2 separate regions of the Homo sapiens genome follow, and region 1 is linked to region 2. The links come from fine-mapping of genetic effects on gene expression. A gene starts in region 2. The other region holds a variant in brackets. All regions are shown on one strand. Distances are between the middles of the regions.

Region 1 (5,382 bases), 270 kb before region 2:
GTGAGTGATGTTGACGCTGGAGAGTGGGAAGGTAATGGTGGGAGGCCAGCAACTTCCATCTGTGCTCTTGCCCTGGGTCTTATAGATATGAAGAGCAGGTTGGTCCATTGTCTCCCTTTTAAAATCAAAGCTTTAATGACCTCAACAAACTATTTAGGTTCTGTCCCTCAGAAAAGAAAAAATCTAATAATGAAAAGATGAGTACAAATTCAGCCTTTCAGCTTCCAGACCTCTAACATCAACTACACACATCTTTTTCTATGTTATCATTACCTCTTTAGCTCAGGAGATTTAAAAAAATCATATGTAAAACTTTCTAAATGTTAGATTATTTCTGGTTAATTTTTGTTCATAGTTTTATGGTATTTTTGTCATGAAATGTAGCTCATGTAATATTTTCTTACCAGAATTTGTTGAGCTTTCCTTTTTGAAATAATACATACCATTTATATAAATATTCATTGGGTGCTGAAAAATATATTAAATATTCATTGATTAAAATTATATTTAATGACTACTTAGATTTTTATATACTACATTTATTAATTTCTGTATCCATTCAATGATTGCAATTGTATATTTTTATGCCACTTAACATGCTGAAAATGTAACACAGTGGAGTACTGAAAAGGATTCAGACACTGCTTTCTTAGTCCCTAGTTTTGAAAAACTCATATTTTAGTGAAGAAAATGATAGTTAATTAAACAAATAAATACAATGGGATGACTGCCTTGATAGCTGCTATGGAAGCACATAACAGAAACAAACGCCCAGGAATGGAGGTCACTGTCTTTATATCTGGAATAAATGTAAAACTAAGAGTTAGCTACACAAAGACAGGGAGTGTTGCTGGAGCGGAGTCCAGCATATGTGAAGCATGGGAGGCCTATAAGATGACATATTTTTGCAGAACTGAAAAAGAGTTAGGATGGACAGTAGTGGTAGAAGTTTGTGAAGTGTATAGTAAAGAATACTCTCAGAGAAATAACATTATATTGGGTTTACTGAGTACTCTTGAATGAATTTTAAATAGGTTGGTGAGATCATCAAACTTATTTATATAAAAGTAACCTAGGTTGTAAGTCAGAAACTAGTTTAGACGAGGCAAAATTAGGAAAAAGCTACAGAAAAAGCATTTGAAAGTCATTATAATAAGGAGAGAGATGAAAGTGGACTGAATGAAGTTATTGACAATGGGAATGGACAAAACAGGACCAAATTGAGTTGGCGACACAAAAGAGAAGTTCATTTAAACTCTGTCTTTTCTAGAATATATGAAACACCACACTGGGGAGTTTCCTGTTAAAGACATGAGGACAGGGGATCCATTGTAATAATTTGTGTTTTTCTGCAGTTTTCTTAAATAACTGTATTTTCTCATAATTTATAACTCTACTATGTGTTGATATCAGATATTACTTTTCACAATAGGTTTCTATTAACTCTCTGAATGACCTCTCCTCTTCAAATTTTGTCATTCTACCTTTAGTTTCCAACATGCTGCTATTGTATCTGAGGAAGACTTGTTAAACAGCACATACACCAGATTATTTATAAAATAAGACAGTCCTATTCATTAGACTGTAGTCCAGAAAATGAGGTTAGTCTTTTTTCTTCTATGAATCTTGCCATGTTCTTCAACCTGTTTGCCCATCAGAATCTTGCTTACTGGTCTGTAGCTATACAGATGTATTTTGAAAATTTGAGGTTGCCAGAAATATGAGCACTAAGTCAGCTTATTATTATATATTATTTATATGTTTAAATTTATTTTTCATATTATATTAGGAAAACCCTTGCATTCAATGTATAACTTTATGTTTGGTAGATAGAATTGAAAAAACCTACATTTTTTGACCAAACTGCATATTAATGAAGAGATAAGAGAGGCATATATGTTTATTTGAATTAGCTATCCATTAATTGTCTCATCTTTACATGAATTCCAAGAATCAAGCAATAAGACAGTTTTATAAAATTGGACTTTCTAATGGTTTTTAAAATGTGAGTATTTTGGTAAGTCTTTAAATTGACTAGCTAGATTGTACTGATTAAAATTGCCATTTCAGTACAATCCTTTTAGGTGATATTTATAGCTATCATGTAATTCCTATCATAAGATTTACCACCATTGTCATATGTTATCATTCAATTAAAAAGCCATATTATGTAAATACTATCCCTACCTTGTTATATTTTTAAATTAGAGTATGGAGATTAGTAACATCTCTCTACTATTTATCTATCTATGTCCTCTAGCAACCTTTTTTTAAAACCTTCCTTCCAGGTCTTGTTTTCCTGCTAAGACTGTTTCTGGTTAGTACAATAAGCAAATCTACTGCAGTAACTTTTTCTGACCCAGGAACTCTGAAGAAATTCATAGAGTTAAACAAATTTTTTTCATGACTTGGGATGCTGAGCAACTATGCTTTTCACAGGGCCTGCCACCCGGATTCTCAAAGGATTATGCCTGCAGAGTTATCAATACAGATTGTCTTTGAACAGAATTGGCTTGGAGAACAGTTCCAAAGTCTCTGCCTCCTGTTTCCTGGTCATTTGACTGCAGGGCATTTATAACCAACCAATGAATCAATTAATTAAATGCTTTCCTCTTTTAGGAAAGAATCTTCATGAGTGTCTATTATATTCTCAAACTCTTAGAGAAGACCATAATACAAGGCTTCTGAAATTCAGGTATATGAGAGTCCAGAGTTCTCTCTGTGTCAGCCACTGTGCTAAGGCCACTTGTAGAGCATGGACACGCAAAACGGCTGATAAACATTTTATCAGTATTCTTACCATAAGAAAATCCATTTTATATTTTAATTGTTTATATTCTGAGATTTCTGGAGTAAGTTATCGAAGGGGAAAATGATTTTTTCACAGATGCATATTTTCCTTTGCAACAATTATAGTTTTAGTTTATCTTTGTTTTCACCTAATTACTGATAGTTGAAAAATATGTCAATATTTGTTGAATTTTCCAAAATACTTTCCTTTTAAAGGGCATAATACACCATTAAAAATGTTTGATAGGAAGGAATATTCAGCTCAATATTAA[C/T]GATGAATAATTGATAGCACAGAGAGATTAATTGCTAATTCGAGGTCACACAGTTGGTCAGTCTTTATTCAGAAAATGAAGTCATTATTTCAAGGCCACAATGATGAGGCTTCATAATTCCCATAATAATTCCAACTTAAGTTTTTATATGTTATCTTCATGAGAAAAGGAGCAAATATTTCCTTGTATGTAACTTTCAAAATAATTTATGAGGCTCTATTATCTTTTGTTCTTTCTAAGTTTATATTTGTCTACTTTTTTACACGTTTAAACATTTTTTTGGGCTCAGCATAAGAAAATACTTTTAGAGATTGAATTATAGAGAAAGTTGCTAAAAATATTCATACTCTATCATGAGACTTTAACATTGTGGTCAAAAACTTAATCTTAAAATTTCAAGCTTATAACATATATACATATGCAAATAAGTAGTCAAGAATAGTTTTTTGAAACGTTTCATCTGACTCACAGGGGCTAACTGAGCTATGAAATGTGAAAATCTGCCAAACATGAAACTGAGAAGAAAACTCAAACATGCCCAGGGCAATAAATAAGATTTATATTTTTTTTGTTTGTTTCTGGTGTGTGTTTGTTTTTATTTCTAGCTGACTAATGTGTATCTTCAGTGATGAATAATATGACAAAATAATCTTTACTGAACTCAACAATCTGAATCTTGAGTAAATTAGACATGAAGAAACTTATGAAAATTTTATGTGATGTGCTAATGGCTTGCTTCTCTTTGGCCCTTTTCTCTGTTTTGTTGTCTAGCAATATTCAAATCCTTGCCCATTAGTTATGGAATTTCTAAGGGTAGGTACTTAGTTTTAATCTAGTTTTTCAATTCCAGGTTCTAACACAGTGTTTGGCTCAAAATAAATACTCAACAAATTGTACAATAATAAAGTAACTTGAAAAGAAAATCACATGAAAACTTGAATGTTCATAAATCTTAAAGAAAAATCACCTAACTTCAGATCTTTTCCTAAGAATCTTCTTCATTCACTTTACCACTCCTATCCTCATCTTAATGGAACAGAAGTGAAAAGGAGGAGGATAAACATTTTAGCTTTTAGCAAATTAAAGGAATCAAAAAATAAGAATATCTTCATAAAATAGAGGTGACATTTTTTAAACGGAGCTTGAAAAATGAATAGAATTTTGACAGCACAGATTGTAGTGCTTAGATTGAAAGGAAAAACGAAGACTTAGTAGCATAAGATTGAATGTGTGAAGCAATGGCAATTGATTTAACTGAAGACCAGGGTAGGTATATGGGAAGACTTGTACAAATTTAGGCCACAACCTTGAAAGCCAGGCAAATAAGTTTACCTTAATTGGTTAGAGATAAAAGTCCATTATGTTTTTAAAGGTCATCTTTTTTTTTTTTTTTCTTATTTTTTTGAGATGGAGTCTTGCTCTTGTGGCCCAGGCTGGAGTGCAATGACTCTATCTCGGCTCACTGCAACCTCCACCTCCTGGGTTCAAGCGATTCTCCTGCCTCAGCCTCCCGAGTAGCTGGGATTACAGGCGCCTGCCACTACGCCCAGCTAATTTTTGTATTTTTAGTAGAGATGAGGTTTCGCCATGTTGGCCAGGCTGGTCTCAAACTCCTGACCTTGTGGTCCGCCCACCTCGGCCTCCTAAAGTGCTGGGATTACAGGCGTGAGCCACTGCACCTGGCCATCTTTTTATATATACTAGTCTCTTTTTATTTGACTGGATTGGATCTTCAGCCTCTATGTAAATAGTATTCTCAACAACAGTAATCCTTTCCCTGTTCACTATTAACCGAGCAGTAAATGATCCTCAGTATTCGATTCTGCCTTTAGACTCTTCTTCTGTTTAAAAAGCAATATTTTTCTGCAGTGCCAGCTACTCAGGAGGCTGAGGTGAGAGGATCACTTGAGCCTAGATGTTCGAGGCTGCAATGAGCCATGATCATTCAGTGAGACCCTCTCTCTAAAAAAATAATTAATTGAATAAACAATGTTTCTGAATATATTATAAAGGAGAAATCATATGTACTCTTGTTGCCCTCTGATTGAACTATTTGCTTCCTCTCTCTCTGGGTGAATACATGTGCTTTTGTTTCACCACCTGACTTCTTAAAAGTCAGAGCAATTTTCATACTTTAAACATTCACATTTAATATAGATAATAAATTAAGAATTTTCTTTACACTTCTCAATATTAAATTTATTTCATCCAGTTATAGAGATTCAGGGACCTAGTATACTGAGATAAGAATTGGTTCCAGTAGTTTTATAGACTTAAGATAATTTTTGGTATGTTATTTTTAATTTTATAGGCTCAAAGA
Region 2 (5,382 bases):
AATCATTACTTGACCTATGCTGGAACAATTCCTTATGTATTTAAAAAAACATGTCGCAGGTATTCCTTTGGAGATATGAGAATGTGGATGGTTGGTGAGAAGGTTGTGCTGGTTTTCTATTTTTCCATCTGCGTGGTATGACTGCTCAGTATTGTGGCATACTGTAAGAGTAACTATAGATGGGACCCCCATTTGCGGGGGGGAAGGGTCGAAGGGATAAAGGAACTGCCTTGTATTGCAAAATTGGTAGCAGAAAAGCTAAATATGAATCTGGGGTAGTGATGCAAGATTCAAGGACTATGGAAGGCCCTTCTTTGAAACTGCTGCCAAGCCACAAGGCTCGCAGTGCCCCCCAAAGGCCAGAGACTGCCTTGGTTACCTCACTTGAATACTGGACCGGGATCTGGAGCCGAACCTCCATTCCAGTTTACTCAAAACTCAAAACTGGCCTCTCCACGTGGCTTGGGTAGAAAGACAGTCAATGAGATGATTTGATGGTTTTATGAGTCAACTCCTCCACCAGAAGCGCTGTTTGGGAGTTGAAACGAAATAATGAGCTCGGGTCACAAGCTTTTCCACGAACCTTTCATCCTGGAGAAAAAGGAAAGTGCTCAGGGAGCCTAGCTGCCCTCGCATTGTTCCTGGCAGCTCCAACTCCTTGCACAGTCTTGGTCTCTCAGGAGACCAAGGCAGTCAGGACGCTACAGGGCACGGGTGTAAGCGCGACGTTCGCGGCCAGCCCTCTGCCTTGCCCCACTGTAATTGCGGGTTTTGATTAAGAAGGAGGAGCCAGTTGCCGACTGAGCTTTGAAAGTGACTTTGGGTGGGGGGTGGGGGTGGGGTGGGGGTGGAAGGAGGGGAGGGACCAAAAGAGCCTGAGTCCTGCAATAAAGGTTTCCCCCTATCTTCTCACTCATTCTTTCCCCCTCGCCGCCGGCGCTCTGGCAGCAGGGGATAACCCCGGTGCGCGCCTCTCTTCCTGTTTGGTTTACTCAAGCGCCTGCCCCAACGCCTTCTCAGTCAAGCTGGGAGGAAACTGCTTCAGCTTGAAAAGGATGCGGGCAAAAGCCCAGCCCGACTAGCTCAACCGCCGCGCCAGTGCCCGCCTCCTCTTCCTTAACGCCTAGGGCTGCGCCCACCAGCCGGCAACGTCCAGGAAAGGGCCACAGGAGAAATGACACCCGTGCAATGCGGAGTGTCCCGGCTCCGCTTCCCCGCAGGGACTCGAGGTGCGCTCCTTTTCCTGGCCACGGTTTAGGGAGGCTCGGAGATGGACACCTCGGCAGTATCTGGCGACCCTCTTCTCACTCGCTCCGCCCACTCCTGCTCTCCAGGGTCCCAGCCAAGGGCCCGAACCCTCGGAGTCCTAGTGAGCCTTGGCCGCTTTGTCTGGGATCAGGCTTATCCTCCTAGCCCACGGCCCGGGAGGGAACAAAGAGCCTCGACCCTCAAGCTCTAGCCTCTGCCTCTCATCGGAGCCCCATGCGCCCATTCATCACCTTTCTAAAGACCCCTTTGTCTGCCTGGCAAGCACAGGTCTGCAAGGGATGCCCACGCCCCTGCCCAAAGTCCTGCTTTTCTAACAACTGAGCTAGATTGGATTTTCAAGCCACCCAGTCTTGTGTAAACGACCTCATACCGGTCTTTTTTACCCCCTCAGAATAGACCATGTATAGATTCGTTGATGCATGACGACCATTCCAGCCCATTCCTTGCTAGCTTTTTCATTCTCTTCCAGTCCGCTTTGACTGTGCTACTGTTTTCCTGGTTTTCTACAGAATAGCAAGTCCTTCTGTAAGGATCAACCTGCATCTTGCTCGCTTAAATAAATGCTTATTACCTAGGGAGCAGGAATATTAAGAAATGGAGTGCAGGAAGTTTAAGAGCATGTGTGTGTGTTAGCAGTCCCATCTCTCTCTCTCTCACACACACATACACACACACGCAAGGGCTGTTTTCTTTGTTTTAATCAATGTCAGAGAAAAATATAAACTGGGCAGGCATCTCTGCTGGTGTGTAGTTTCTGATAGAGGACGCCTCCAAACCGGAACAGGGAGGATTTCCGAAACAGGACTTTGAATAGAGTTGACAATCAGGTTCACATCCTCAGAAAAAGCCTTCCAAGCTATGTCAGCAACACAAAGTTGCACCACCTCCTGGGTAAACTTCAAAGACACAGAGGCCAGCGGGTGGAAGGAAGTGTGATATTTAGAGAACTTAGTGGGGCGGGGGAGAGTCTGAACTCATCTAGACAAACTAAAAAAAATAGCAGAAATATAGTCTGTGTGAAGCTACAGTACCCAGTTTCTTTCTAAAACTGTAACCATGACGCCCATGCGTTTTAGCCGTAGAAGAACAAATAAGGAAGTATCCTTAGTGGTACTGGAGTTTCTAATTCAAATTATAACACATTAATCTATCCAACGTCAAATAGAAAAAAAAAAAGTAGAGAAACAGAGTATACCTATTTCCTGCTTTCTAAGCTTTAACTTCAGCCCTTCGAGAAACCATCTATCTCCAGTATCTCCTTAGGTGATAGGACATTGAAAACAGGCAACCGTTTGGTGAATAAAGACATTTCTCTTGAGTTCTGCCCACAGATTAAAAGGACAAGGACACACGTTCTTTGTTGACACTTCTGCAGTGACTTCTCCTTTGGCGAGAGAGCACCCAGGGCCAACACAACTGTCACCACAACCACACAGAGCAAGTTGAACTCATACTGGGAACAGCTTAGAGAAGCACGCACATCTCAACAACAGCCTTTGTTATTTAATTCATGACACTAACCACGCGCAAGCTCAAACAAACACACATGCTATCCTAACCATCACTCTACCCTCTATATTCACATTTCATTTATGGCTTGACTTTTTGTCATATCCTGAAATGAAGCTTTGCATTTACCCGATGAGTTGCGTCTCCTGGTGCTCCTCAGTTCTTGCTATTTCTTTTGTCTTATAAAAGATCAGGAGCAGACTTATTGTGCAGATCGTCCACCTCTTCCTAATGGAGCGCATCTTGGGTGCCCGAGAAAGTCCTGGTTGCCCCAGCTCCCGCACCTTCTCTTGATATAAAGGCTCCGTTTTGGGGAGATAGTCGCGGGGGTGAAATCTGTAAAATGCGAGGAGAGCTTGGAGCCGGGATCCCGGGATCAGATCACTGGGGTCTTCTGTGGCCGAGCTCCCTCTGGTCCTCGAACGCTGCCCAGCGACCTCTCGCCCTGTTTGCGCCAGCTCTGCCAGGGTCGCTCCGCGCCGCCTCCCTGGGGCTCAGGTTTCTTTTCAGATGAGACACCTTGTGCATTGGAGGTGGCGGCAGCTTCTGCAGCTGGGTTCGGGGGCGTCACTGGCCCTTCCCTCTTGCTAGGAGATAAACGCTGCGCAAAGCCAATCACCAGGCTGAGGGGGCGGAGGCTGCTTGGAGAGTAACGTCCCCGGCTCTGCCTGCTCTGTGCCGGGAGAGGAAGCTCACAGTGCTACGCGCCTGCGAGCTCGCGCACATACACATATACATACATACACACATACATACATATGCACACACACGTACACGCAGAATCACACACACTCTCCTGGGACATCAAAGCATCAGCTCTCTGGACCTGGGAGCTCCAAGATAGTCTATCCGCATCTAGGTGAGAGGGCACCTCGCCTGGGGACAGATTACAAAAGCGTCCCGCCAGAGGAATGCTTCAGGTAGAGCTAGGGGTGGATTGCAAGAAGAGTACCTTCTTTCAATCGCTTTTGCTAAACACACACCCTCACACGCAAAAACACGCCCTCCAAGGTGGAGTGAAACGGGGTGCGGGGGTGGGGACGGCGGTGGAAGGAAGAAGACTTTTATTACTCAATCTGGAAAGTGCAAATACACACATGAACCTGTTAGCCGATGGGCCCACTCTGCATGGGTGGTGGACGACGACCCTGGCTCAGGATTCTGCAGGAAACAAGTGATGATAGAGGTGTCATTAGGAACTTTATGGATATTTATGCGCCTCCCTTTCATTGCCATTTGGAAACTCCTCACGCAGAAGTCAAGGAAACTCCAATCCCACTTAAACTTCATTGCGGAGAAACAGAGTTCTGAAAAAAAAGCAGCTACCATGGACCTCTCTTTTAAACGCAAGTACACCCACACACATTCGGATACCAAGGAAGGAAGGAAAGAAAGAAAGGAAAGAAAAGGGAGGGGAGGAAGGAAGAGCAAAGTCCTCTCTAAAAGTCTCAATTATATATATAGCCTCTGATTGTCACCTCTCCTCCGTCCCACCATTTTTCGTACTTGTATTGGGTGGCAGGGACACTTTTCAAGAGTTCTGTGTTCGATTGTTCACTCTGAGTACCTCTCCACCATCCTCCAGTCGTTGCCCTCATTGGGAGAGATGCTTGCTACTCTGCTAGTACCACGCCTTGGTTCCGGTCTTTACTGTTGGCTGGTAGGTCGGGAGGCACCTCTAGCATGAGACAGTGTCTGGAAGCCAGGATTTCCCTCATCTATATGCGCCGGTCCCCAGCTCCCTGGTCGCCAGGGTTTCTCTCCAGTTGAATTCCGTGTTCCTTCAGGTTGAACAGTAGCTTCAGCGGTTTTTCACGCTCAGAAATGATGAGGCCCAATTCCAATCTTCCCTCCCGCCGGAAGTAAGAAGGGGAATTCTGAGTTGCTTGTCGCCTGACAGCTTAAAATAGCAACGAAAACAGCCAGCATCTTTGCTTAAAAACCCAAGGTTCCCGCCAGTGTTTACCATACTTCCTCTAGAGTTTAAGAAGTTAAGAACTTCCGAGATCTTGAATTTCCTCTTTGCAGCACAGCGAACGGGGTCGGGTATAAAAATGCTCCAAGGAGCAAGTAATTACGAACGTTTATTGACACTACAAGTGGCCCACAGGGAGCCTTTCGAGTTTATTGATGTCTAGGCAAATCCAGCCTGCATTAATGCATTTCTGTTAGATTGACTTCTGTTAGACTCACTTTTCTTCTGGCAAAAACTGCCAGAATAAAACAGCTTCTTATTTAAGTTAAAAGGGATCCGGGGCTGAGGGCAGGGGTCGGGTGGGAGAGGGATGCATGGTTAGGATGCTAAATTCTCAAGGATAAACTTTGATTTTTAAACAGTAGACAACTATATTTTAGATTATAGGTAAAACATCACTCTCTGTCAGGGATAGAGTAATATGCATCGTTTCATTAAACTCATTATTTCTTAAGCAATGGTTATGGGGCAGGCAATGTGTGCGGAGATGGGAACACAAAGATGAATAAAACTTAGCATCTAGTCAGACACAAATCCTACTCACTCAAAGGGGGCATCTTTTAAAAATAATAATTTACAGTATGGCAACATGAATCAGAAACATCATTTAAAATATATATGGTATCTGA

The links. PIP is the estimated chance that this variant, and not a neighbour inherited with it, causes the effect.
Region 1: its variant is the best candidate, but not a certain one, in a credible set for the expression of ST8SIA4 in blood mononuclear cells (TOPMed, PIP 0.70).

The regions. Positions count from the first base shown.
Region 1 is chr5:100,631,573-100,636,954 of GRCh38, forward strand. No RefSeq gene overlaps it. Among named protein-coding and RNA genes, the nearest start is that of FAM174A, 99 kb to the left of the region's middle. The variant C/T (reference allele first, on the strand shown) is at 3,063.
Region 2 is chr5:100,899,936-100,905,317 of GRCh38, forward strand. ST8SIA4 (ST8 alpha-N-acetyl-neuraminide alpha-2,8-sialyltransferase 4) reads right to left here and starts at 3,347. Exons shown (of 5, transcript NM_005668.6): 1 at 2,908-3,347. The coding sequence starts at 3,020. It overlaps LOC107986437 (a long non-coding RNA gene), which reads left to right and starts at 3,473. Exons shown (of 2, transcript XR_001742825.3): 1 at 3,473-5,382. RefSeq lists enhancers at 470-689, 796-1,297, 2,435-3,004, 3,490-3,729, 4,510-4,749.